Homo sapiens: one gene and its partners. The protein of the gene in region 1 interacts with the protein of each later gene in a pairwise test. Each region holds a gene or a part of one and is shown on either strand. Other genes may lie near its edges.

Region 1 (2,517 bases):
AAGACATTGCTCTCCAGCCTGGGCAACAAGAGCGAAACTCTGTCTCAAAAAAAAAAAAAAAAAAAAGACAAAATATGGGATATTTTTTCTTATGTCATTTTTTACTACTATTAATATACATTTTTCTACCTTGAAAAATAAAATCTCCAAACTTTGAATTTAAACATTAGGGATGGTTACTTTGTGGTCAAGATTCCTTTATTAACAAAAGAGTTCATCTTTTGTTTATAAAACATTGACTATTTGATAGGTCATAGTTTAGGGAAACTGAAAGCTAAACTTTTACAATGAGAAATGAAGACCATGCATTTGCATTGGAGAAAAATTTTTTTTTGGCACCAATTATATTTTGTACCCACCTTTTGAAAAACTAAAGGGGGACAGCTCTGTCTAGATCATTTCTTCCCTTTTTCTCTTGCTTCTAGACATTGTCTGGTCAATCAGAAGGTTGCACACAAGAGCTGTGGTTGTTCGCTCTGCAAAGAAAAAGGCCTGGGAACTTTGCTTTTTATTGATTTTATTTCTCCGAGAGTTTTCTTACAAAGTGAATTGAGCTCGCACAATTAGCTTGATGTAATCTTAAGAAAATATATGAAGTATGCTTTAGAAAAAATCATGCTCTAACCAGCCATCTCATTTGGCAATCATTTTCCACAGCTCTTGCCCTTTTTGGGGTGGGGAGGTGGGGTTATTTTTACATGTGAATGATTACATCTGCGTACAAGAGATCCAAACTCACGTTGACCTCCCTCTGCAACACCAGCTGGTGTTGGGAGACAGAGCGCTGAGGCAGCCAGGGCTTCAGTCCCCCATGCTCTTTGGCCATCAGTCCTCAAATGTCATCTCCAGAAGACCTGGCTGAGGTCTGGGCAGTCCACACACAAAAACCTAGCATTTCCTCCCACAATAACAGCATTTGTAGAACACACAGCAAGAGCTTAAATCCATCCCATGGAGGAAGAGGGATTTTCTTGTCCCCTTTTGCAGTCACAGGACACTGTCACTGGAGAACCTTCCACTCCAGGGTTCCACATCTCCAGGCCCTCACCCAGCAGCCCTCCTTATTATCTCCCCTCCCCTCCAGAATGCAGGGGACACTTTCCAGCCTCTACGTTGTTTTCAGCTCCTAGTTGTTCAGCCCAACAACTCAGCATCTGGACAGGTTTTCAATCCAGAAATCGTGGATTTAAAAGGAGTAGCTGCTCCTTTTCTCTGGAGCACAGCCCAACAGCCCCTGCTGTATCCCTAAATTGATTTTGATTTTGAAGCAGCAGGTGCTGTCATGGGTTCATTCTTGTCCACCCAGTCAAGCCTGTGTGGACGGGCCTATATGGGGACACCGAAACCTACATCGGGCTATTTTTCTGTCTTCTCTAGTCAGTTCTCAGAAGTGTCTCCACTTAGCCAACAAATTTGGAGACAGGGATGTGTTTCTGGCTTGCAGCAGCTGAGTTGCTGTCCTTGACTCTCCTCATTCTGATTTTTCTTGGGGTTTCGGGACAACTAAGGGGCCCCAAAGCCTCAGATGTGCAGCCTACAGAGGAAGGTGGGCAAGGGCGTGTGTCTCTGTCATTTCCTTCCTTTTGAAGCATTTACTTTCCGAGTCGCCAGCTGGTTCCAAAGCTCCTCTCCCACCAGGCCAGGTGGTGTCCAGACCAGGAGGAGGCCTGGCTGACCTAGGAGAACAGCGGTAGGAGGAGGCATGGGTGGCAGCCAAGAGACGCTGAGAAGCAGTATCTCTGAAGCTGTTTCCAGATTCATCCGGCCCGGTAGGATCTCTGTCTGATTCCATGAGAGTGTGGGAGCAAAGGCCCTAGGGAAGAGGCTGCTAAGAGGCTGGACAGAACTTCCTAGAAAATCCTAAGACTCCCAGGAATGCTGGGCAGTTTCATATCCAAGAGTCAGGGAAAGATGTGGAGAGGCTGCCCTGGCTGGGGAAGGAAGAGGGTGAAGGTGGGATTGGGGTGGGGGTAGTTGGGTAGGGGGCTCAGTCCTTAGTCATTTTTCCTCCATGCAGAATCTCACTCTGAACTTGGAGAGGCTGTGGAGTCCCCATCCTCAGGGTCCTGCCCATTGGGGGAGATGGGCTGACCTCCCTTCACACGCTTCCACTTCATCCTTCGGTTCTGGAACCACACTTTGACCTGGGGGAGGAAGCAAAGGAGCCTGGTCACTCCAGGGCCGGTGTGACCTCCTCCCCATGTCAATGCTTAGGCTAGCCAGGGTGTAACTCCAGGGACCCCAGCTTGAAACCATCACTTACCACTCCCTACTCCCTCAAAGGCCCCAGGAACTAGGACCGAAGAGAGGACATACCAATCTGCCCAGAGGTCTGTCTTGTGGCTTCGGATAAAGCCCCAGACGGGGGAACATGTTCTAAAAGCACTCTGCATTGGCCCCACCCCCTTCACATGCCCTGCCCTGCCTGTGCCAGGTCCCCCTGCCCCCTACCTCCATTCCCCAAGGGTCTGGGAGCAGAGGTCATCAGCCTTATCCTTAGGCACATTTATAGAGCAC
Region 2 (3,500 bases), on another chromosome or scaffold:
GGTATCTTGTGATAACATTGAATATAATCTGATTTTCAGAGGTTGTCTTAACCCACTTCAAATAGTAACTCCTTTCTGGCTTTCCTGACCTTCCACCTCTTAAGACAGAATTTCTGATTTTTTACAGACTTTTGATAATAGAATCATCACAATGCTGTGTAAAAACATACAGGATCCATTTTTTTTTTTTGTAATTTCAGCACCTGATACCATATTGCATGTTTGCATTAGATTGTGTATACATTTAATCTTTTCTCTTTTTCTCTCTTTTTTGGGAATGCTTTCTTTGTGTCAAGCACTATGTTACCTAATAATAAACTATAACTAACATAAATAAATTGCAGTGTTATTACTACAAATAATTTGCAAATCAAAAGTCCAGCAATGTGAATTAATTTTGAATAGTAGTTGGGTAATTCTGACTACCTGGATTTTCTTACTTTAGCAATAATAACAAAAGTAATTTCAAATGATTTTTTATTTCCTAGTGTGACTGTGAAATACTATGGAAAAGCATCTCATTCTGCTTCTTATCCCTGGGAAGGATTAAATGCATTAGATGCTGCTGTGCTGGCCTATAACAATCTGTCTGTGTTCAGACAGCAAATGAAACCAACCTGGAGAGTTCATGGTATGAATGTCAAATACCTTCTATAATAGATGGTGCTTGCTATAGTTCAGTGCAGTATAATTATTTAATATTCAATTTTTAAAAATTTGGAAATATTTTTGTACTTCATATGAATATTCTGATTTTTAAGCATATTTTCAGAAATTCATGTGACAGGATACTAAGATGTTTGTCTATATAGGGTTAGAAAGACAGTTTTGATTATTGTACATAAATGGAATGTCATCTTTGAGTATCAAAGATAAAGGTTTTATGTAAGGGGCTGTGTTCTTTCGGTGGGTGTTTGAAAATTGGATCTTGATTTTCCAGTTGTCCTCATTATTTCTTAATGATAACCAAATTTTGTCAATTAAAAAAAGGTATAATAACTGCTAGTTTTATTTAAGTGCTGTTAGTCCTGAGTAATATCTTTTTGTGTGATTTTTTGTTTTTGAGACAGTCTTGCTCTATTGCCCAGGCTGGAGTGCAGTGGTGCAATCTCGGCTCACTGCAACTTCTGCTTCCTGGGTTCAAGTGATGCTCCTGCTTCAGCCTCCCAAATAGCTGGGATTACAGGCAGGCAGACACCACCAAACCCAGCTAATATTTGTATTTTTTGCAGAGACGGGGTCTTGCTATGTTGGCCAGGCTGGTCTCAAACTCCTGGCCTTAAGTGATCTGCCCACCTCAGCCTCCCAAAGTGCTGGGATTACAGGTGTGAGCCACCATGCCTGGTCCTGAATAGTGTCTTTTAAAATTATATATATATATCACCATAATATAAATACAGTCAAAGTACTGTCTTGAAGGCACACATTTGTTTAATTTATTTCCTTATGATTTAGGAAATTGTTATATTTTAATATCTATTCTTTACCTGATTTTGCTATAGCCTGAGGTCAATTTGTAATTGTACTTTTACCAGTTTTCCTGCTTTAGTTTCTTTAAAAGGAACAAACAGGAATGTGTAGAAATATTTTTTTAAAGTAGGTCATAGGACATTGGATTTTTTGTATCTATTTTAGTTATTACTTCGAATGAATAAATCTTAATTCTTTATAATTCCAAATAAATACATTTGTTTTGACAGTTGATAATACTTAGTGATCTTTGACCTGCATTGGTTTTTTTCTTGGCATGAAAATTATTTTTCCTATAGCTAAATGCCATTTAAAATGCTCATGGGATTCCTGAGGTATGAGGGTAATTATAGAACCTCATACCATTGTTGAGGTATGGTAAAATCTTTTCCAGAAAGCTTAAGATGTTACTAATTTTTTTTGTGGTTATATAATTTCTAAGTTTCATTATAGTCTGGATCATAATTTCTTAACATTATGTAAATTCTTCTGAATGAAGTGCATATGGATAATTATTTTTTCTTATCAGCCAAAAAATATCACCCTATGTAAAGAAATTTCAGTTGTACAACATAACAAAATCTTTGATTGGTGTATTGGTGGAGCTAGTGAGTTTAAATTATTTTTCTTTATGAACATATTGGCTGAAAAACTTAATGGGTGTATTTAAGCTTAAAGAAATGGTCACCAAGCTTAATTCTAGTAATTTGGTTCTTTTTATAGGTATAATAAAAAATGGTGGTGTAAAACCCAATATCATTCCCTCTTATTCTGAATTAATCTATTACTTCCGTGCACCCTCAATGAAAGAACTTCAAGTTTTGACCAAAAAGGCAGAAGATTGCTTCAGAGCTGCAGCTTTGGCTTCAGGGTGCACAGTAAGAACTTTTAAAAGTTAATCTAAGTTACAATCAGAGGTATATATGTGGGCTAGCACTGTTAGATTGAAATCTAACTTGACTCTCTTATTTGGTGACATGTTGAATATGCAAAATGAATTGGCTGAATAGTTAATGTGAAAGTCTTTAATTTTTACACGTTTCATTCCTCAGTGCTTGCAATAGGGAAGATGACAGGTCATCTTACTTATATAGTAATTAGAATAATTCTGATACTTCTATGCTAGAATCCCTGCCTTTTTACAAGTTATATTCTTCCTTGTCGGCAGTTATACTTTTAGAATTGCTATATGTAGTTTCTATAAAGGAAAGTTTATGGCAAAATCAGCAAAAGCTTTTTTTTTTTTTTTTTTTTTTTTTTTGGTGGGGGGACAGGGTGTTGCTCTATTGCCCAGGCTGGAGTTGCAGCGGCACGATCTTGGCTCACTACAACCTCCGCCTTCCAGGCTGAAGCAATCCTCTCACCTCTGCCTCCCACCTCAGCCAGCTGAGTAGCTGGGACTACAGGCACGCACCACCACACGTGGCTAATTTTTTGTATGTTTTTCTGGAGACAGGGTCTCACCATGTTGCCCAGGCTGGTCTCAAACTCCTGAGCTCAAGTGATCCACCCACCTCGGCCTTCTAAAGTGCTGGGATTATAGGCATGAACCACCTCGCCCAGCCAGCGAAAGCCATTTCTGAAGTTAGGGTGTGTATAGTAGTGATATAAATACTATGGCTTGCTGGAATGGAAGATAAAATAGACACAGAAGTTAGTTAAGAGGTTTTATTGATTTGTTTCTGTTTGTTTGTTTGTTTTTGAGACAAAGTCTTGCTCTATTGCCCAGGCTGGAGCGCAGTGGTGCAATTTTGGCTCAACGCAACCTCCTCTGCCTCCTGGGTTCAAGCGATTCTTATGCCTCAGCCTTCCAAGTAGCTGGGACTACAGGCGCTTGCCACCACACCTGGCTAATTTTTTTTTTTCTTTTTTTTTTTTGAGGCGGAGTCTTGCCCTGTCACCCAGGCTGGAGTGCAATGGCGCAATCTCAGCTCACTGCAACCTCTGCCTCCCAGGTTCAAACAATTCTCCTGCCTCAGCCTCCTGAGTAGCTGGGATTACAGGCGCCTGCCTCCACACCCAGCTATTTT
Region 3 (3,132 bases), on another chromosome or scaffold:
ATTGTAAGTGAATGTCTAAAATAATTGGTTTTTATTAATAATCTGTATATTCTCACTTCAGCATCTGAGTAGTACATGAGAGGGAGTAGTCAGGGTTGGGTATATAGCTGTTCATTTGTTAGTTCACTAAGAGCTGATTGTGTGCCTGCCCTGAACCAAGCCCCCAAATCTGTGTGTGCTGAATCTGTCTTGGATGTCCTTACCCACTAGAAGCTGTCAATGCTGTTTCACCAACAAGGTGATGGAAGAGCAGAAAACTATTAACAAGCATCTGTGAACACTATCTTTTCAGTGCTCGCAATAGTGGGATAATAGTAGCCCCATTTCCCAGTAGGAAAAAAAAAACCAGAGAGGTCAAGTAATTTCCCACAGGTGCAGATCCACTATATTGCAGAGTTGAGATTTGAACTCAGTTTTCTGTAGCTGCAAATAATCTTTTCTAGTGTGCTGCCTCCAGTATGTGCCTGATGCAGAGAGAGACCTAACCCAGAACTAAGACCTCTTACCGCCATTTCTACTGCTACCATCCCGTGTAAGAGCTGAGCGTACAAATCCTCATTTCCGTGGTTACAATGAGGGTGTGATGTGTTAGCTTGGGGAAAAAAGGACCAGAGGATTCTACCCTCAGTCATAAGCAGGAGGAAATACCACAGAGGTCAGTGATGTAGACACTGAAGCCACACTGCCAAAGTTCAAACCCCAGCCCTACTGCTCAGGAGCTGTGTGACCTGGGGCAAATTACTTTACCTTCCTGTGCCTCAGTTTCCCTATCTATAAAATGGGGACTCTGATAGCATATACCTTATAAGAATGATGTAAGGATTAAATGAGTTAACAAATGTTAAGCACTTAGGACAGTTACCACATAGTAATGTTATATAAGTGTCTGCTACTAATTATCGTGGTTTTCATTTCTGGGAGGATTGGGAGGAAGGAGACGTTAGGGAATTTCAGTATCCACATAACATATTTCTAAGTTGTGTTGTTTTAAATGAGCATGGGCTACTTTTATAAAAGCATTCAAAGAAAGAAATTAAAGGAAGAAATAGATTCACACAGTTTTCCCCAAGGATTTGTATGCTCAGCTCTTAACACGGGATGGCAGCAGTAGAAATGGCGGGTAGAGGTCTTAGTTCTGGGTTAGGTCTCTCTCCACAATGAATAGACAGGAATACTCCCATGCTGTCACCCTCCTAAACTCACACAGTTTTCCCCAAGGTCCCCTTCTAACCTCACACAGTTTTCCCCAAGGTCCCTTCCTAACCTCATACAGTTTTCCCCAAGATTCCCTCCTAACCCCGTTGCAGTGAATGAGACTCTGGAGGATGGGGTTATGCTTTGTCTAATGTGGGAGCCACATGGGCTGCATTGTTGGCCCAGGAGTTTTTTCAAACAAAACACTCTGTTGTAGTAACAAGTTTCACAGAAGAAACATTAAGCTGCCTCTCATATTGTAACCTTTGTCTCTCTCGTCATTTGCAGCTTTCTAAGACCTCTTCTGACTTAAGTAAAATGGCTGCTATATACCTGGTAGATGTGGACCAAACTGCAGTTTATACACAGTATTTTGACATCAGTTATATTCCATCTACTGTCTTTTTCTTCAATGGGCAGCATATGAAAGTGGATTATGGGTAAGTGCAGTTGATCTGAAGTTAATTGCAACCTTGTAAGTTTCCTTGGTAAGCATTTTCAGTAGCTTGCCTATTTCCATGTGATGTTGGCTCTGTGAGTCTTATATCAGTACTGTTTCCCCAATTGACGCACTCTCTAATTTTTTATGCAAAACCTTGCTACAAAATGAGAGTGCTTCTGGTATGATTGTCAAATTTTATTTATTTTTTTAATAGTGCATACACATGGTTTGTCAAATTTTAATTTCCGACTTAAGTATGAAGAAATAGTACAGGTGGCAAAGCACTACCATCCATAAGTCTATAAAATATAAAATAGCCATATTAGCTAAATAAAGAACTCTTAAAATTTTCCCAGGAATTTCATTTGAAACAAAACATGTAGTTTTTCTTAAGCTTTTGGACTGGTAAGTGGCATTTATGAAAGAAACATTCCTTCTAGCAAACTAAGATGTGCTTCTCTCTTGCAAAGTTTCCTGCTTTTCGCCATTGAATTTTAAATCATTCTTCAACAAAGCCTGTCAAGAATAAGTAACATGATGTCCTCTTTAGTGCCTTCCACTCCATCCAATTACCATCTCAATACTTAATATTGATGATTGGGTGCATCCATGATTCTGATCATTTCTTACTGTGGTTGATGTGTCCACTTATCTAGATCTGTGTACCCTTTTTGTCTTTATTTGAAAGTATGTGAAATATTATCTGTTTTAAAGTGTTTTAGGCTGGGCATAGTGGCTCACGCCTGTAATCCCAGCACTTTGGGAGGCCAAGGCAGGCGGATCATTTGAGGTCAGGAGTTCAAAACCAGCATGGCCAACATAGTGAAACCCCATCTCTACTAAAAATACAAAAATTAGCCAGGCATGGCCAGGCGCAGTGGCTCACGCGTGTAATCCCAGCACTTTGGGAAGCCGAGGCAGGCAGATTATGAGGTCAGCAGATCGAGACCATCCTGGCTAACACAGTGAAACCCTGTCTCTACTAAAAATACAAAAAATTAGCTGGGCGTGGTGGCGGGCGCATGTAGTCCCGGCTACTCTGGAGGCTGAGGCAGAAAAATGGCATGAACCCAGGAGGCGGAGCTTGCAGTGAGCCGAGAGCGCGCCACTGCACTCCATCCTGGGCAACAGAGCTGCCGTCTCAAAAAAAAGATTAGCCAGGCATGATGGTGGGTGCCTGTAATCCCAACTACTCAGGAGGCTGAGGCAGGAGATTCGCTTGAGCCCAGGAGGTGGAGGTTGCAGTGAGCAGAGAACGCACCACTACACTCCAGTCTGGTGACAGAGCAAGGCTCCATCGCAAAACAACAACAACAACAACAAAAAAAAAACACAAAAGTATTTTAAAGCTGTTTATTCTACTGGAACACATTTGATGTAAGTATTAATTTGGTACAACCTTTTATGGGGGCCAGTTCAACATTATGTATCAAATAGTTTAAAGTTTTTAAACTTTTTAACCCAGTAATTACACTTCCAGGACTTTAATATGATGT
Region 4 (3,500 bases), on another chromosome or scaffold:
CCCTTGGTCAGCTCAGCCTACCTGGAAGAGCGACCCCGGCTTCCGGTGAGGGGGCCCTCTCCCAAGAAAGGTGGCTGGGGCTTAGCTCTGAGGTTAGCCATTCTTCCAGGGTGGATGGTGTGCTCTACCTCAGCTTCTCTCTCTGAGGAAGAGTCTTTGGGGAGGGGGTTGCTGGGCCCACTCTGTGACGCTCAGAAGATAGCATCCCCTCCTAAGGAACTTGCCGCCTCTCAGTTGATCTCCCCAGGGAGAGTGTGGCAGAGGGACAGGATTCGGGGCCTCCTGTGGGTCCTTCTTAGGGCTTTGGCCCACACCTGCCTCCATTTAGTTCCCCAGGGAGTCCTGTGAAAGGAAGCTTGAGGGTGAGGGAGTGGTGCCAGGACTACACCCTCATATGCCCCTGCCCTCAGGATCACTGTGGTCACATGGAACGTGGGCACTGCCATGCCCCCAGACGATGTCACATCCCTCCTCCACCTGGGCGGTGGTGACGACAGCGACGGCGCAGACATGATCGCCATAGGGTGAGGTGGCAGGGCATGTGGACCCCCTCCTGAGCCCCTCGGGCCTTCCGGGCCCTCCACCCATGGCAGGGGCTTCCAGGGCACCTCTCCAATCCCATGGCCACCCTGCCCCCACCCCTCCAGGTTGCAGGAAGTGAACTCCATGCTCAACAAGCGACTCAAGGACGCCCTCTTCACGGACCAGTGGAGTGAGCTGTTCATGGATGCGCTAGGGCCCTTCAACTTCGTGCTGGTAACGCACCCCTCACCCCCTGGACAGCCAGAGACCCTGCTGAATTCCTGGCTCCAGCTGTACCCTGGCTCACTGTGGGGCCCGCTGGGCCTCTGTGGCTGGGTCCGTGACATGGGTGGGTGGAGGAGCAGACCTGAAGGTGGGCGCGAGGGCGGGGGAGTTGTGTTCTGTCCCCCAGCCACGTGGCCTCCCGCTGCAGGTGAGTTCGGTGAGGATGCAGGGTGTCATCCTGCTGCTGTTCGCCAAGTACTACCACCTGCCCTTCCTGCGAGACGTGCAGACCGACTGCACGCGCACTGGCCTGGGCGGCTACTGGGTGAGCCTGTGAGCAGGCCCAGAAGAGGATGGGACATGAAGGGGGCTTTAGATTAGTCCCCCCGCCCCATGCACAGCAAGGTCCCCTTCCCATCCTCCACCCTTTACCCTGCGGCCCAGCCCCCCCATGCACCACCCAATACCCCATCCTATTCCTCTATACCCCCGCCCTTTTCTCTCCCCACTGTGTCCCAGCGTTGTTCCTCATTTCTGTAGGACCCACCCACCTTCCACCCACATCTCCTCTCTAACCCCCGCTCCCAGTGCCTCACCTCCTGGCCTAAGCCCCGCCCATGAGCCATCCGACCCTGCCTCCCTAGGGTAACAAGGGTGGCGTGAGCGTGCGCCTGGCGGCCTTCGGGCACATGCTCTGCTTCCTGAACTGCCACTTGCCTGCGCATATGGACAAGGCGGAGCAGCGCAAAGACAACTTCCAGACCATCCTCAGCCTCCAGCAGTTCCAAGGGCCGGGCGCACAGGGCATCCTGGATCATGAGTATGGGCTGGGGTGGGGCCAAATAGAGCTTGGGTGGGGCTAGTGATGGGGGTTTTTGTACCACCTTGGGTGGGGCTTATGGAGAGAGGCAGGGCCTATGGGGTTTAGTGCCCACCCAAACTAGTTGTAGGAACACGAAAGCAGAGAGCAGTTGGATGGGGAGGGGCGGAGCTTGTAGGGTGGAGCTTTGCTGAGGGGCCCCGCCTTGCTGAAGGTCAGAACCTAATTTCCTGTAGACCGGTCCCTCTGCTTTTCCTCTGCCCTTTGGTGGGCTGGAGGCTCTGGCACCACTCACCCACTCACTACATCCCCTCGGGTTGGATGGGCTGGAAGGATCTGGGCTGAGCCCTTATCCTCCATGGACCTGTTGACACCCCCCACTGCCCCCCACATCTCTCCCATCCCCCACCCCAAACAGCCTCGTGTTCTGGTTCGGGGACCTGAACTTCCGCATTGAGAGCTATGACCTGCACTTTGTCAAGTTTGCCATCGACAGTGACCAGCTCCATCAGCTCTGGGAGAAGGACCAGGTGGGGTCCTTGTCCCCAGAAGCACACAGAGCATGTCCCAGGACACGCCTGTACCTTAGACTATGGTCCCTGTCCTCACCTGCCCCACCCCCTCCCTGGGCACAGCAGAGCCCAAGCTGTTGTCCAATCTGCTCTCCTGGACCCCCCACAGCTCAACATGGCCAAGAACACCTGGCCCATTCTGAAGGGCTTTCAGGAGGGGCCCCTCAACTTCGCTCCCACCTTCAAGTTTGATGTGGGTACCAACAAATACGATACCAGGTGAGCTCAGTCCGAGGAGGGACTGAGGGGAAGTGGGCTGAGGTCTTCTCGAACAGGGAGACTTTGGGAAGAGGGGCAGGAGGCAAGGTGGAGGGTTACATCTTGATCCCCAGCCCCTGAAACTTGGGGTACCCCTGCTCACTGCAGTGCCAAGAAACGGAAGCCAGCTTGGACAGACCGTATCCTATGGAAGGTCAAGGCTCCAGGTGGGGGTCCCAGCCCCTCAGGACGGAAGAGCCACCGACTCCAGGTGACGCAGCACAGCTACCGCAGCCACATGGAATACACAGTCAGCGACCACAAGCCTGTGGCTGCCCAGTTCCTCCTGCAGGTGAGTTCTGGCCTCATCCTCCCCGCATGAAATCCCCAGGCCCAACTCGGCATACCACTGCCCCTCACCATTACCCTTTGTATAACCCCTTGTACCTGCCCTCAGCAGCATCCATTTGTTGTAACAGTGGAAATGGGGTTGCAATCTACATTTTCAGATGAGGAAGCTGAGGCTCAGACACATGGCATCACCTGCCCAGGGTCACCCAACTAGTAAGAGGAACAGTTAGGATTTGAACCCAAGTGAGTCTGGTTTCAGAGCCCATGCCTTTTCTTTTTTTTTTTTTTTTTTTTTTTGAGACAGAGTCTCATTCTGTCACCCAGGCTGGAGTGCAGTGGCACGATCTTAGCTCACTGCAAGCTCCGCCTCCCGGGTTCAAGTGATTCTCCTGCCTCAGCCTCCTGAGTAGCTGGGATTACATCACCCGCCACCACGCCAGGCTAATTTTTGTATTTTTAGTGGAGACAGGGTTTCACCATGTTGGCCAGGCTGGTCTTGAACTCCTGACCTCCTGATCCACCCACCTTGGCCTCCCAAAGTGCTGGGATTACAGGCGTGAGCTACCGTGTCTGGCCAACTTTTTTTTTTTTTTTTTTTTTCTTTGAGACGGAGTCTTGCTCAGCCGCCCCAGGCTGGAGTGCAGTGGCACAATCTTGGCTCACTGCAACCACCATCTCCTGGGTCCAAGCGATTCTCCCGTCTCAGCCTCCCAAGTAGCTGGGATTACAGGCACCCGCCGTCATGCCCGGCTAATTTTTGTATTTTAGTAGAGACAGGGTTTCACCGTGTTGGCCAGGCTGGTCTTGAACTG
Region 5 (4,036 bases), on another chromosome or scaffold:
GGTGGGAAGCCACTTGGTTTGGGTGGGCTTTCTCTCTCCCATGCACAGTGCTTTCTACCATAGATCTTACTAAGCCATGTCAGAGTTTTGGATTTCTGATTCTCCTCAAGCCAAGGAGGGATGAGCAGATTGCTGAACTCCCGGGTGTGAGAAATTGGGAAGGAAAAGGACTGAGCTCAGGGCCAAGAGCATGGGCACCAGGAGGCCTCCAAGTGTAACCCCTGTCTACGCACATCCTCCTCGTGGGGCACAAAGGTAGGCAGTCAAAAATCAAAGAAGGAATTTTGCTCAGGAGATGAAAAAAGGAAAGAGCTCAAATGGGTGGATCTTTGGGGAAAGTTTCCTCAAGATAAGGGCTGCGGCTCTCTTACCCCAAATCTCAATGCTCCTGTAAAGGAGACTGAGTGGTGCAGAGTGGTACAAGCCCTTCTGCTAAGGGGAGAATCTGGCCTTACCCTAGTGACTCCGAGGAGACTGGCCCTTTCCTCTCCCAACCCGAGTGTAGCCAGGATCCCACCCACAACTATCCCCCTACCTCCACCCTCTGGCTTCTTTCCCCTTCCCTTTAGGCTCACCTAAAACAGCCCCTTTCTGCCCCAGTTCCCACGGATGCCTTGGCACTGTCTGGCACAATCCTTGGCAGGGAAGTGGGGAAGGGAACCCCCATCCTGGCAGGACTAAGACAAAATCTATCCGTGCAACAGGTGTGGGGAGGCCTACCCAGCTCACGGAAAGTTCCCCCCTTCTCAAGGGTTGGGCAACACCGCCTTTGCCGCAGCGTCCCCGTACTGAGGGGGCCGGGCACCTGTTGGGGCAGGAGCTGCCGTCCTGTCATTAGCCTGGGGGCACCAAGCCCATTCCTCCCCGGGACCACTGCGGGGTTTGCTTTCGGAGCCTCCGGGACGCACGGGCCCAGACCCGCCCTGCTGTCGCCTGGGACCCCTCCCCCGTCTGCCGCTCGTTCCCGCGCCTCTTCTGTCTCCCACGGTCTCCCCATTTTCCTGTCCTCTCCGTCCTCCCTCTGCCTCTCTCTCTCCGGTTTCCTCGACACCTGCGCCCTCTCCAGTCTCCGCCCGGGTCGCGTCTCCCTCGCGGTCTCAGCGCCCCCTCCCTCCCCCGCCGCAGCCCTTTGTTTCCCGGCGGAGTAGTTCCTGGGTTGCCGAGCGTCTCTGTCTCCGCATCTCTCCTCGCCCCGCCTCCTCCCTGCCTGGATCCGCCCTGCCCGCAGCCTCTCCTCCCCTTCCTCCCCGCCGCCACGGCCCCGTAGGTGCTCGGGGACCCACCTTCCACCTAGCACGGGTTCGTTCCCCTCTCCCGGCCTGGCCCGGGCTCCCCGGTGGCCGCCGCCCCCTCGCCGCCCCCGCCTTCTCCCGGGGAGGGGGTCAGGTGGGCGGGCACTATTGTTGTAGGAGCCGGCGCCAGATTCCTCAGCCGCGCTCGGGGTGGGACCGGCTGGGTTTGGGGGGGTGGGGTGGGGGGAGCGGTGATCTGAGCTCCGAGCAGCTGGTCTTCGCGGCTCGCTCCCTCCTTCGCGCTCTCTCGCTCCCTGCCGCCGCCCGCAGGGCTGCGGGGCTCGGTGGCATCTCCCGGGCGCGGCCCGCAGTCCTTGCCCCTGCCTCCGGGCCGCTCCCGCCCCCGGCGCCGCTCGCTCCCCCGACCCGGACTCCCCCATGTATGACGACTCCTACGTGCCCGGGTTTGAGGACTCGGAGGCGGTGAGTGCCCACGATGAGGGTGGGGGCGGGGAAGTTGGGGTGACACCTCCTCTCCCTTCAACCCTTTCCCCGGTTCAGGACTTTGAAAAACGCCTCAGTGGCAGGGCAGGGTTTGTAGGGGGGCGCTCTAAGAACGTGGGGAGATGGATTTTCATGCCAAGCGTTCCCCAGCGACCCAGACTCAGACCCTGGGGCATCGGGTGTGTGCAGAGAGGGGGCAGTATAGGGGAAGGGCTCAAGCAGGTGGCTCCACGGCCCAGGAAAGAGGGGTGGGAGAAGGCAGGGCTGGAGGCCGAGGGCACAGAGGCTCTGGAGAGGGAACACGCCATGTCTGGAGTTCCAAATTCTGGATTTCTGGGGTCTGAACACAACAGCTAGGAGAGCCGCCGAGGTGGTTGGGGAGGCAGACATTCTAGACCTCTTGTGCCTCAAGCAAACGACACATCAGGGAGCTGAGAGGACATCAGGGAGCCAGGGGCCAACCTCTTCAGACAGACGGATCCTAAAACTTGAGGAGCTCCATTATTCCCTTCCACCCCCTCCATCTCTGCGCATTGCCTCATCTCCTCACCCTTTCTCTAGCCCAGTTTCTCTCCCAGGCTGAAACCTGGGCGCCCAGCACATGGGTAGGCCAGGTGACTGAGCCCCATCTATTCCACAGCCCCCTGCTGAGGCTTCCTCTGCAGCGGGCATCCTGAGCTCTTGCCCAGCATGGAGGGCCTGGAGGTGAGGCCAGAGGAGCTGAGGGCCTGGGGATGGAGAGGAAGCGCTTTGCTCAGAGAAACAGGCAACCGATAAATATTTAATTCTCCTCTTTGCTTTTATCTCCTGACCCACTGAGACAAATCAGCTCATTAAGCAGTGATTCCCGGAGCTCAGACAGCAGGGAGAGTGCCTGGAAAGATGGGGCAAGAATGCGGAGCAGCTTCTCAGCCCCTTGGAGCTGACAACTTTCCCTCAAATGTCCTGTAAGAAGGCCTCCTTAGGAGTGGACCACTAGATGGCTTGGAAGGGGCCCCAATAGGTTGGAGCACCCCTGGGTCGGAAAGAGGAGTTCATGTTCAAGTCTTCTCCCATCACTTACTGCCAGGCCCAGGATAGATGAATGCTGATGTTCAGAATAGGCAACTGTCCTTTTCTGGGACTGGTCTCCTTCTGGGCCCAATTCTCCATGGGGCCTCTGGGGCTAATTACATTGCCGCTAGATCAGATCATTTTCAAGGCTCTGGTGGACACCTCTTTCTGACAGTTGAAGGGACAGCTGGTATAGCCCAGGGTGCCAAGGTGAGCTTGAAAACAAACCTCTCTGTGGGGCTGGATGGCCCTAGGAGGTTCTTCCCATCCCTGGTGAGAAGGCAAGGGCTATTGCAAGGAGCAGACTGACATGTGGATGGTGTTGGAGGGCAGCCTGCTGACCCATTGCTCCCTCCCATCTCTCTCTGGCTCTGATCACCCTCCCCCACTTCCCTTTCTCTTGCCTGGCTCCTTGCTCTCCCTGAGGCCCCCTCTGAAGCAGTAGGAGGGAGATCAGGCTCTAAATAAATCCAACGGCTCATCTCCCTCCTCTCCTTCCCCCGTGCCAGGCAAGAGAGGAGCTGCAGCCTGCCCACACACTCACTAGGCAAGGGGGGCACCACCAGGGCACTGTGCCAACTCCTGGCAGCTCCAAAGTACTGAAACTCTGGCTATTTTGGCGTAGCAGGGTACAGGAAAGGTAAGACCCTAGATCATGCTTGGCAGGGCAGCCCTGGCCTCCCCAAGTAATACTGGAGCACTAGAGATGAGTGAGCCTGGAGGACTTGGGAGTAATGGAGAGGGGGTTCCATTCTGAGCACAACTCATTAAATATTTAGGAAGAGATCCTGTGATTCCCATCCCAGGGTGAGAGGTCAGGTAAGCCAGATGCCTCAGGCGTTATGATTACTAAATTAGGCCGCCAGCGGTGCCTCACACCTGTAATCCCAGCACTTTGGGTGGCCGAGGTAGATCACTTGAGGTCAGGAGTTGGAGACCAGCCTGGCCAATATGGTGAAACCCTGTGTCTACTAAAAATATAAAAATTAGCCCAGCATGGTGGCACATGCCTGTAGTCCCAACTACTCAGGAGGCTGGGGCAGTAGAATTGCTTGAACCCGGGAGGCAGAGGTTGCAGTGAGCCGACATCGCACCATTACATTCCAGCCTGGGCATCACAGTGAAACTCCATCTCAAAAAAAAAAAAAAAATTACTAAATTAAACCAGGCATAGAGACTCATGCCTATAATCCCAATGCTTTGGGAGGCTAAGGTAGGAAGATGGCTTAAGCCCAGGAGTTTGAGAC
Region 6 (3,500 bases), on another chromosome or scaffold:
AGGACTGGGCCTCCCAATACTTTATCATCTTAGGTAGATATTGTCCTGAGTGTCTGTTGAGGTGACTGTCACCCACCGTCACCCCACCTCCTTGTGCCCACACACACCTGCACCTTCTGCTGAGTCTCCTCACGCTCGGCAGCCTCCAGGGCCTCGCGGGGCCCCCCAGTCTGACTCTTCAGGGTCTGAATCTCCTAGAGGAGAAGAGTTCCCAGGGTCTGTTGCGGGGGTCCTGGCTTTCCCACAGGAGGTGAGGGAAGGCGAGGCCCAGGAACCACACTTGGCACTCACCTGGTCCTTGGTTTGCACCAGAGCTTCCAGCTGTTCCAGCGACTGGCCCTGGCCCAGCCCCTCCTTCTCACCGGTGGGGGTCACCTCTGAAGCTGCCTGAGCCTCCAGCTCAGCCACCTGTAGGGCAGGAATAGCAGCCCCTGACGCCCCCGCCTGCACTCTCCCTTGCTCGCCCAACCTCTAGGGAATCTGCCTCCTGTCTGGCCACGCCCAGGACCGAGCACCCATCTCCCTTGGTTGGTGCCACCACCCCCCTCTGCACAGCTTGGACTTTAGTGTCTGATCACCCTCTGAGGCTGGCATTGTCTCAAACCCATTTTACAGAGCAAGAAACTGAGGCTGGGTCAGTGACCTGCTGAGGTCACACAGCTAGTCCATGAACCCAGGGCAGATGGGAACTGCCGAGGCGCGGTCTCCACAGTTGCCCGGGCCAGGTGGGGGTCTCTCGGAGGGAGGGGTGCCCTCACCCGCTGCCGCAGCCGCTCGGCCTCTGCACGCTGAGCCTCCAGCTGCTGCCTCCACTGGGCTGCGGCGGCGTTGGCCTCTCGCAGGGCGCCTGCCAGCTTGTTGTTGCTGTCCTGCAGTGCGAAAAACTCGGCCTCCCACTGTACCTCGCCCACGGAGCTGCAGAGACACGAGGGTCGGCAGTGGGTGACACGGGGCTGGGGGGCGGAGTCGGGCGATGCTGGGCTAGGGGGCGGGGCCAGGGGTGGGATAGCTCTGGGCTTAGGTCAGGGCGAAGGCTGGCGAGGGTGCGGAGTCGTGCGCGAAGTTGGACTAGGGGGCGGGGCAGGGGTGGAGTGGCACTGGGCTGGGGGCGGAGTCAGCGGCAATGCTCGGTTAGGGGGCGGGGCCAGGGTGGGTGGCGCTGGGCTGAGGCGGAGTCACGGGCGATGCTGGGCTAGGGGGCGGGGCCAGAGGAGGGGTGGCTTTGGGCTAGGGCACGGAGTCAGGGCCACGCAGGGCTGGGGATGTGGCGACACTGATTGCTGAGCTTGGGGATGGGGCAGTCCCGCAGAAGCGGGGTCTTGTCGAGGACCGAGTCAAAGAAGGGGGCACGTGGAGTCCGCCCAGTGACACTGTGGGAATGTTGAGGGAGGGATGGGAGGTTGGGGAGAGTCAGCCGATGGGGGCGTGGTCAGGGTGGTTATCCTAAGACCAGAGAGGCATCGACGGGGCGAGGTTAGCAGCGAGAAGAGACAGGGATGGGGTCAAAACAGAGGGGCGTGGCCAACGCAGGGTAGGGGCGGGGTCGGCTCTGGATGGGGCAGCATTCAGATCCTCATCCCCTTCCCCAGGTCTTGAGTCCACAGTTAGATCCCGCCGTCCTGGCACTCCCTTGGCTTCCAAGAACCGCCTCCTCGTCCCCCACCCCTACCCCCGCCCCTGCCACGCCCCCAAGTCCCGCCCCTCACCCCTCAGACAACATCTTCTTTAGCCGCTCGCGCTCTGTGGGGCCGGGGGCATCAGCGCTCTGGCTGCGGAACAGTTTTTCCTCGCCGGGGCCGTTGGCACTGACGAGAGGGCTCGGGGGCACCTAGGCACGGGGAAAAGAATAGGTCACGACCCCACATCAGCTGGGATCAAGGCTGATGTGACTGGGGTCGTCACATCGGGGGTGCAATTGACCTATGCACCCTAAGCAGGTCCTTCACAGCACAGGATCCAAGTGTGTCCCTCCCCACCTCACCCACCCTCCATGGCTCCCTGTGGCCCCTAAGCTGGGAGTTCCATGCCCACGCCCTCGACCTTGCCTTCCTGGGCTTTCACCACCCCCAGGAGCAAGTCTGATGCAGGTTAGTCTAAACCAAGATACTTAGAACCTGTAAGGTAGGGGAGGGGTACAATCGGACACCTCCCTGCTGTTCCCTTCCCTGAGGCCGAACTTCAACATCACGTTTAGGATTTCAGCAGGAAGCCCTGCCCAGGCCGAATTCGTGTTTCGTGAGCAACCCCACTGCCTGGACCACTGGCTCTGAGGGTAGACAAGCTGGCGGGTGCCCTGCGAGAGGCCAGCGCCACCGCAGCCCAGTGCAGGCAGCAGCTGGAGGCTCATGCTTTTTTTCATCTCTCCAACCCCTGTGCACAGCCCTCGGCCTGGTACACAGCAGGTGCTCAATAAATAATGCTGAATAAATTAATGTGGGAAAACACGCAGGGACAGTTCGTTGTTCTGCCTCACACTTAGCCATTTCTTTCTTTCTTTTTTTTTTTGAGACAGAGTCACACTCTGTCACCCAGGCTGGAGTGCAGTGGCACGATCTCGGCTCACTGCAACCTCCATCTCCTGGGTTCAAGCGATTCTCCTGCCTCAGCCTCCCGAGTAGCTGGGACTACAGGCGCATGCCACCACGCCTGGCTAATTTTTGTATTTTTTAGCAGAGGTGGAGTATCACCATGTTGGCCAGGCTGGTCTCGAACTCTTGGCCTCAAGTCATCCTCCCTCCTCAGCCTCCCAAATTGCTGGGATTACAGGCGTGAGCCACCGCACCCGGCCACACTTAGCCATTTCAATTTCTAGTCTTCCATCCTGCCATCTGAGCTGGTTTTGCTACTGGGACCTACTGGGTGTACCCCACCGGCCCCAGGCAAGGTCCAGACCCTCTATGACACACTCCACACCACTCCTCTGTGGTCCCTGCTGTGGGTCTAACCTTAGGTCATCTGGAAGCATTGGGTCTTGACGACCAGCAGAGTGCCCCGGTCTCCCAATATCAAGGTCCCCCAATATCAGTTGAGCGCCTGGCTGACTCACAGGTGCCCAGGCAGGCATAGGGGAGTAGGGAGTGCTGACCTGGTGGGAGGCGAGCCCCAGGGCTGGACTGGTGAGCTCCCCGCCATCCTGAGATTTCTCCCTGGCCAGCCTGGCTGCTTCCTTCACTTCCTGGAACTTCTCGGCAAACTAAGGGAGTGGGGAGGAAAAGACAGTAAAACCCCAGCCCATCCTCCCAAACAGGTCACCATCACTCAGTGACAGCCCCGCCACTTTCGAACCGTACCCATCCCCTTATCACACACCTTGGAAGAAGGAGAGAAACTTTGAAAAATGATGTACCATGGTGGGTGGGCAGGTGGCATCAGATCACAGAGGTGGCATTTAAATACATTGGGCCACATTGAGAAAGGGAAAGGAATTCCCATGTCCTCTTTTTAGGAAAGGGTCTCACTTTGTCACCCAGGCTGCAGTACAGTGGCATGATCTCGGCTCA
Region 7 (3,500 bases), on another chromosome or scaffold:
AGAGCATTGGGGAGCCATAAAAAACTTTTGAAGTAGAGGAGTGCCATGACCATATTTGTTATTTTAAAAAGATGTCTTTGCTGTATATAGGGTTAAAAGGCAATGCCAGGAAGCCACATCAGAGGCTACTGTAGTGGTCCAAGCAATGGGTGCTGATAGCATAGACTAGAGAGGTGGCAGTAGAGATGGTGAGACCTGGGCAGGCTTGAGAGAGAGCAGATAGAATTGCTCAGACCTGGAAATTGATGTTGGGAGTGAGAGGGAAGGGAAGTAGCAAGGATAACACCCATGGGCTTCTGCACGAGCTGCTGGGTGCATGTTGGTGCCATGTACTAAGAGTACTTAAGGAGGAACAGGTTTGCAGGAAAGGATGGGCCATGTCAGATGTGTGGCGTTTGGAGTGGCGTCCAAATGGACATGGCACTAGGTCGTTTAAAAGATCTAGAGGTCGAAGGAGACTGTGGGCCGGAGGGAGCACTGGGGAAGGCGTCAGTGTGACGGGTCCTTGCCCCAGCCCATGGGAGTGTATAGAATGACAAGGGCAGAGTCAGGACAGCCCTGAGCACCAGCTGTGTCGCTTCAACTCCGTTCCTTTTTTAAAATGTTAATTCACTAGGAAGACCAATTTCTTTAAACACCTCTCTTGAGACATGAGAAAGAAGATAAAAGTAGAAGAGTTTTGCCACCTCTCTTTGGAACCAAGTGAGAAAGACAAGTGTTAATGATGAGCTGAAATAACTCCCCGTGTGAGTGATAACTAACGTCCTAAATCTTGGTCCCAGTGATTACGACTGAAGCATTCATATGATATGAGCTGGGTATACTCTAGGACACCGAGTTTTTTCATGAAGTTGAAACTCTTGCATGCTGTCAGGGAGTTTGCGACAGTCTAGGTACTTTAAACAAATGCGCTTACTAATTGTGTAATGATGTCACTGAGCTTGGCACCCCATGTAGGGATTCTGTCTTTCCTGTCCCCTATTCCCTGTCCCCCAACCCCTTGCTTCATTAAGACTTGCTGATTCAAACTCACTCTGGTTGAGGTTGAGTGTTTCTCTTTGTTCCAAAGGGTAGTGGCAGGCATATTTAAAGTAACAATTGTACAGAACACTCTTTAATGATGGCCTCTTATTTGAATCATCCCAGACAAAGAAATATTGCTAGATCCTGTAAATCTTCCAAGAAAAGATTTTGCGGATTTTAGACCCACATGTATGTTGTTTTGTTGTGAAGTATCTGGCTTCTCTCAATGTAGGAACTTTTTATTTTATTTTTTTTTGAGAGGAAGTCTGTTGCCCAGGCTGGATGGAGTGCAGTGGTGCTACCTCGGCTCACTGCAGCCTCTGCCTCCCGGGTTCAAGCAGTTCTCCTGCCTCAGCCTCCCAAGTAGCTGGGACTACAGGCATGCGCCACCACGCCTGGATAATTTTTGTATTTTTAGCAGATACGGGGTTTCACCATGTTGTCCAGGCTGGTCTCAAACTCCTGACCTCAAGTGATCCGCCCATCTTGGCCTCCCAAAGTGCTGGGATTACTGGCATGAGCCAGCATGGCTGGCCTCAATGTAGGAACTTTTGCAGTAGCTACGTAAAAAATAGATTCCGTATGGACCTTCCATCATATGCAGAGCCCTCTTGTCTTCCTTTGTAGATTATTCACTGACCAGCGCTGACCTGTCAGCCCTTCAAGGCTTCAACTCGCCAGGAATGCTGTCGCTGGGACAGGTGTCGGCCTGGCAGCAGCACCACCTAGGACAAGCAGCCCTCAGCTCTCTTGTGTGAGTAACTAGAAGTTTTCCCTGCATCTTTACTCCTGGCCTACACACTCTCTTTTCCTATCAGTGACAGCCTTTTGCTCTGTTGAGTTTCGTGTGAGGAATCCTGTAATGATTCCTTTTCAGGTAGATACAAGTGTCGGGAGAAAATATTTTCTTACATGGCTCTAGACAGTAGCTTGGATACTGACAAACTAGGCATTCCTTGAAGGGATTTGGGGAGCAAGGCTTCTCCCATAGGGACATCCTGAGGTAGAGAGACTCAACCAGGATCTGAAGGGGTCTGAAGGCACAGATACCACCCGCATGCACCATCCTTCTGCCCTCTGACCAGTGATGAAGCTGCCTACTGCACCCCTGCTCCCAAGCACCTGCCTCTGGCTGCACTGCTTGAAAGGCAGCCTGTAGGCATTCAGGCCTCCCTGCCACCCTTGCCATTGACTGCTTTGGTGAGTATCTGTAGACAAGAATAGGAAGACAAGCTGGAGCTTTTGCTTTCTCCCTGGGCCACAGGGAAGGAAAACTGGGGACAGGGTGTCTTATATATCAGTCAGGCTCCATAGGATTTGTGTGACTGATCCCAGCCCAATGCACACACCAAACCTCATTCACAAAGAGAATGTTCCGTATGGGCAGGGTGTAAGGATATAAGCAAAGAGGATTTACAGTGGCGCCCAGATGAGGCCAGACATCCCTGACAGCCGGGAGAAAGAACAGGGCTTTTGTGGAACCAGGATGACAGCAGACCCATGGAGCAGTTGGAGGAGAGTGTCCCAAGAGAGGGGACAACATAGCAGACCCAGCTGGCCTCCATGAAGACTGGCTGCCTTGCCTGTGCTCTGGGCAGTAGGAATACCCCAGGCCCCTAGCCTCTGCCCAGGAAGTCCCCAGAGAGCCTGAGCTCAGCAGTCCCTTTCCCTCATCCATTCTGAAGTAACTGCACAGTGAGGATTGTTGTCAGTGGTCTTCTTAGGAATTATGTCATGGAAAAAGCAGCAGAGTATCTCAGGGAAATTTGCCTACACAGGATTTGGCCCTCAGGCCTGTCCTGAGCATCCTAAATGAATGCACTAAAAATAGTCCTGGAAAAGCAAGTGGAAAGGGCTCAGAGCCCAGGCCCGGGGAACAGCCTGTTTGCGTCCTCCTCTACTGCTCTCAGCCAGCCCCTCATTTCCTCATCTGGAAAATGGGGATGGTGCGACTTGCACCTTAGAGGTGTTGCGAGGATGAGCGATGTTGTGCCCTGTCACAGGGCCAGAGCAGATGGGGAGCAGATGCTGAGGAAGAAGAGGCGGTGAGCAGATGAGGCTGCTGTTCCTCTGTCTTTCTGGTCCCTGCACAGCATTAAGACACTGACATTGTTTTGTATACTTTAGCTGCAAAAGTACCAACGTTGTGGGTAACAGAACCAAGTAACGTAAGGGCTCAACGGTACTGTTTTCTTTCCTCCTAGGAAGATGGGATTTCCTTTTGTGCCAAGCACTGAAGGAAACGACCCAAACCAGTCTTGGGGAACTCTGATAAGATTTCAGACTCTGGGCCCTTTTCCATCAGGCAGTGTCTCTACTGTATCATCCCAGTTTTGCAGAGGTACTTGCAAGCCATCTGACCTCTCTCTTTTTTTTCCTTCAGTGCTGGAGGGCAGTTATCTCAGGGTTCCAATTTATCCATTAATACCAACCAAAACATCAGCATCAAGTCCGAACCGATTTCACCTCCTCGGGAT

The links.
Region 2: the proteins of MEOX1 (region 1) and PM20D2 interact in binary tests that used the Homo sapiens proteins (3 or more experiments, as listed by UniProt).
Region 3: the proteins of MEOX1 (region 1) and TXNL4B interact in binary tests that used the Homo sapiens proteins (3 or more experiments, as listed by UniProt).
Region 4: the proteins of MEOX1 (region 1) and INPP5J interact in binary tests that used the Homo sapiens proteins (3 or more experiments, as listed by UniProt).
Region 5: the proteins of MEOX1 (region 1) and CACNB3 interact in binary tests that used the Homo sapiens proteins (3 or more experiments, as listed by UniProt).
Region 6: the proteins of MEOX1 (region 1) and HOMER3 interact in binary tests that used the Homo sapiens proteins (3 or more experiments, as listed by UniProt).
Region 7: the proteins of MEOX1 (region 1) and MEF2A interact in binary tests that used the Homo sapiens proteins (3 or more experiments, as listed by UniProt).

What each region holds. Positions count from the first base shown.
Region 1 is NC_000017.11:43,639,889-43,642,405, forward strand, and holds the end of MEOX1 (homeobox protein MOX-1), read right to left. Parts: intron 2,145-2,517; coding exon 2,022-2,144; 3' UTR 501-2,021; downstream 1-500. UniProt on the Homo sapiens protein: Mesodermal transcription factor that plays a key role in somitogenesis and is specifically required for sclerotome development. Required for maintenance of the sclerotome polarity and formation of the cranio-cervical joints.
Region 2 is NC_000006.12:89,152,555-89,156,054, forward strand, and holds part of PM20D2 (xaa-Arg dipeptidase), read left to right. Parts: intron 1-488; coding exon 489-631; exon of another isoform or gene 632-635; intron 636-2,193; coding exon 2,194-2,348; intron 2,349-3,500. UniProt on the Homo sapiens protein: Catalyzes the peptide bond hydrolysis in dipeptides having basic amino acids lysine, ornithine or arginine at C-terminus. Postulated to function in a metabolite repair mechanism by eliminating alternate dipeptide by-products formed during carnosine synthesis.
Region 3 is NC_000016.10:72,087,489-72,090,620, reverse strand, and holds part of TXNL4B (thioredoxin-like protein 4B), read left to right. Parts: coding exon 1-3; intron 4-443; exon of another isoform or gene 444-532; intron 533-1,482; coding exon 1,483-1,634; intron 1,635-3,132. UniProt on the Homo sapiens protein: Essential role in pre-mRNA splicing. Required in cell cycle progression for S/G(2) transition.
Region 4 is NC_000022.11:31,125,966-31,129,465, forward strand, and holds part of INPP5J (phosphatidylinositol 4,5-bisphosphate 5-phosphatase A), read left to right. Parts: coding exon 1-45; intron 46-328; exon of another isoform or gene 329-410; coding exon 411-524; intron 525-647; coding exon 648-756; intron 757-955; coding exon 956-1,072; intron 1,073-1,391; coding exon 1,392-1,567; intron 1,568-1,809; exon of another isoform or gene 1,810-1,985; coding exon 1,986-2,097; intron 2,098-2,248; coding exon 2,249-2,358; intron 2,359-2,505; coding exon 2,506-2,689; intron 2,690-3,500. UniProt on the Homo sapiens protein: Inositol 5-phosphatase, which converts inositol 1,4,5-trisphosphate to inositol 1,4-bisphosphate.
Region 5 is NC_000012.12:48,817,260-48,821,295, forward strand, and holds the start of CACNB3 (voltage-dependent L-type calcium channel subunit beta-3), read left to right. Parts: upstream 1-1,236; 5' UTR 1,237-1,670; coding exon 1,671-1,715; intron 1,716-1,786; exon of another isoform or gene 1,787-2,683; intron 2,684-4,036. UniProt on the Homo sapiens protein: Regulatory subunit of the voltage-gated calcium channel that gives rise to L-type calcium currents. Increases CACNA1B peak calcium current and shifts the voltage dependencies of channel activation and inactivation.
Region 6 is NC_000019.10:18,931,218-18,934,717, forward strand, and holds part of HOMER3 (homer protein homolog 3), read right to left. Parts: intron 3,194-3,500; coding exon 3,086-3,193; intron 1,829-3,085; coding exon 1,707-1,828; intron 916-1,706; coding exon 759-915; intron 409-758; coding exon 292-408; intron 195-291; coding exon 108-194; intron 1-107. UniProt on the Homo sapiens protein: Postsynaptic density scaffolding protein. Binds and cross-links cytoplasmic regions of GRM1, GRM5, ITPR1, DNM3, RYR1, RYR2, SHANK1 and SHANK3.
Region 7 is NC_000015.10:99,708,984-99,712,483, forward strand, and holds part of MEF2A (myocyte-specific enhancer factor 2A), read left to right. Parts: intron 1-1,650; coding exon 1,651-1,777; intron 1,778-3,406; coding exon 3,407-3,500. UniProt on the Homo sapiens protein: Transcriptional activator which binds specifically to the MEF2 element, 5'-YTA[AT](4)TAR-3', found in numerous muscle-specific genes. Also involved in the activation of numerous growth factor- and stress-induced genes.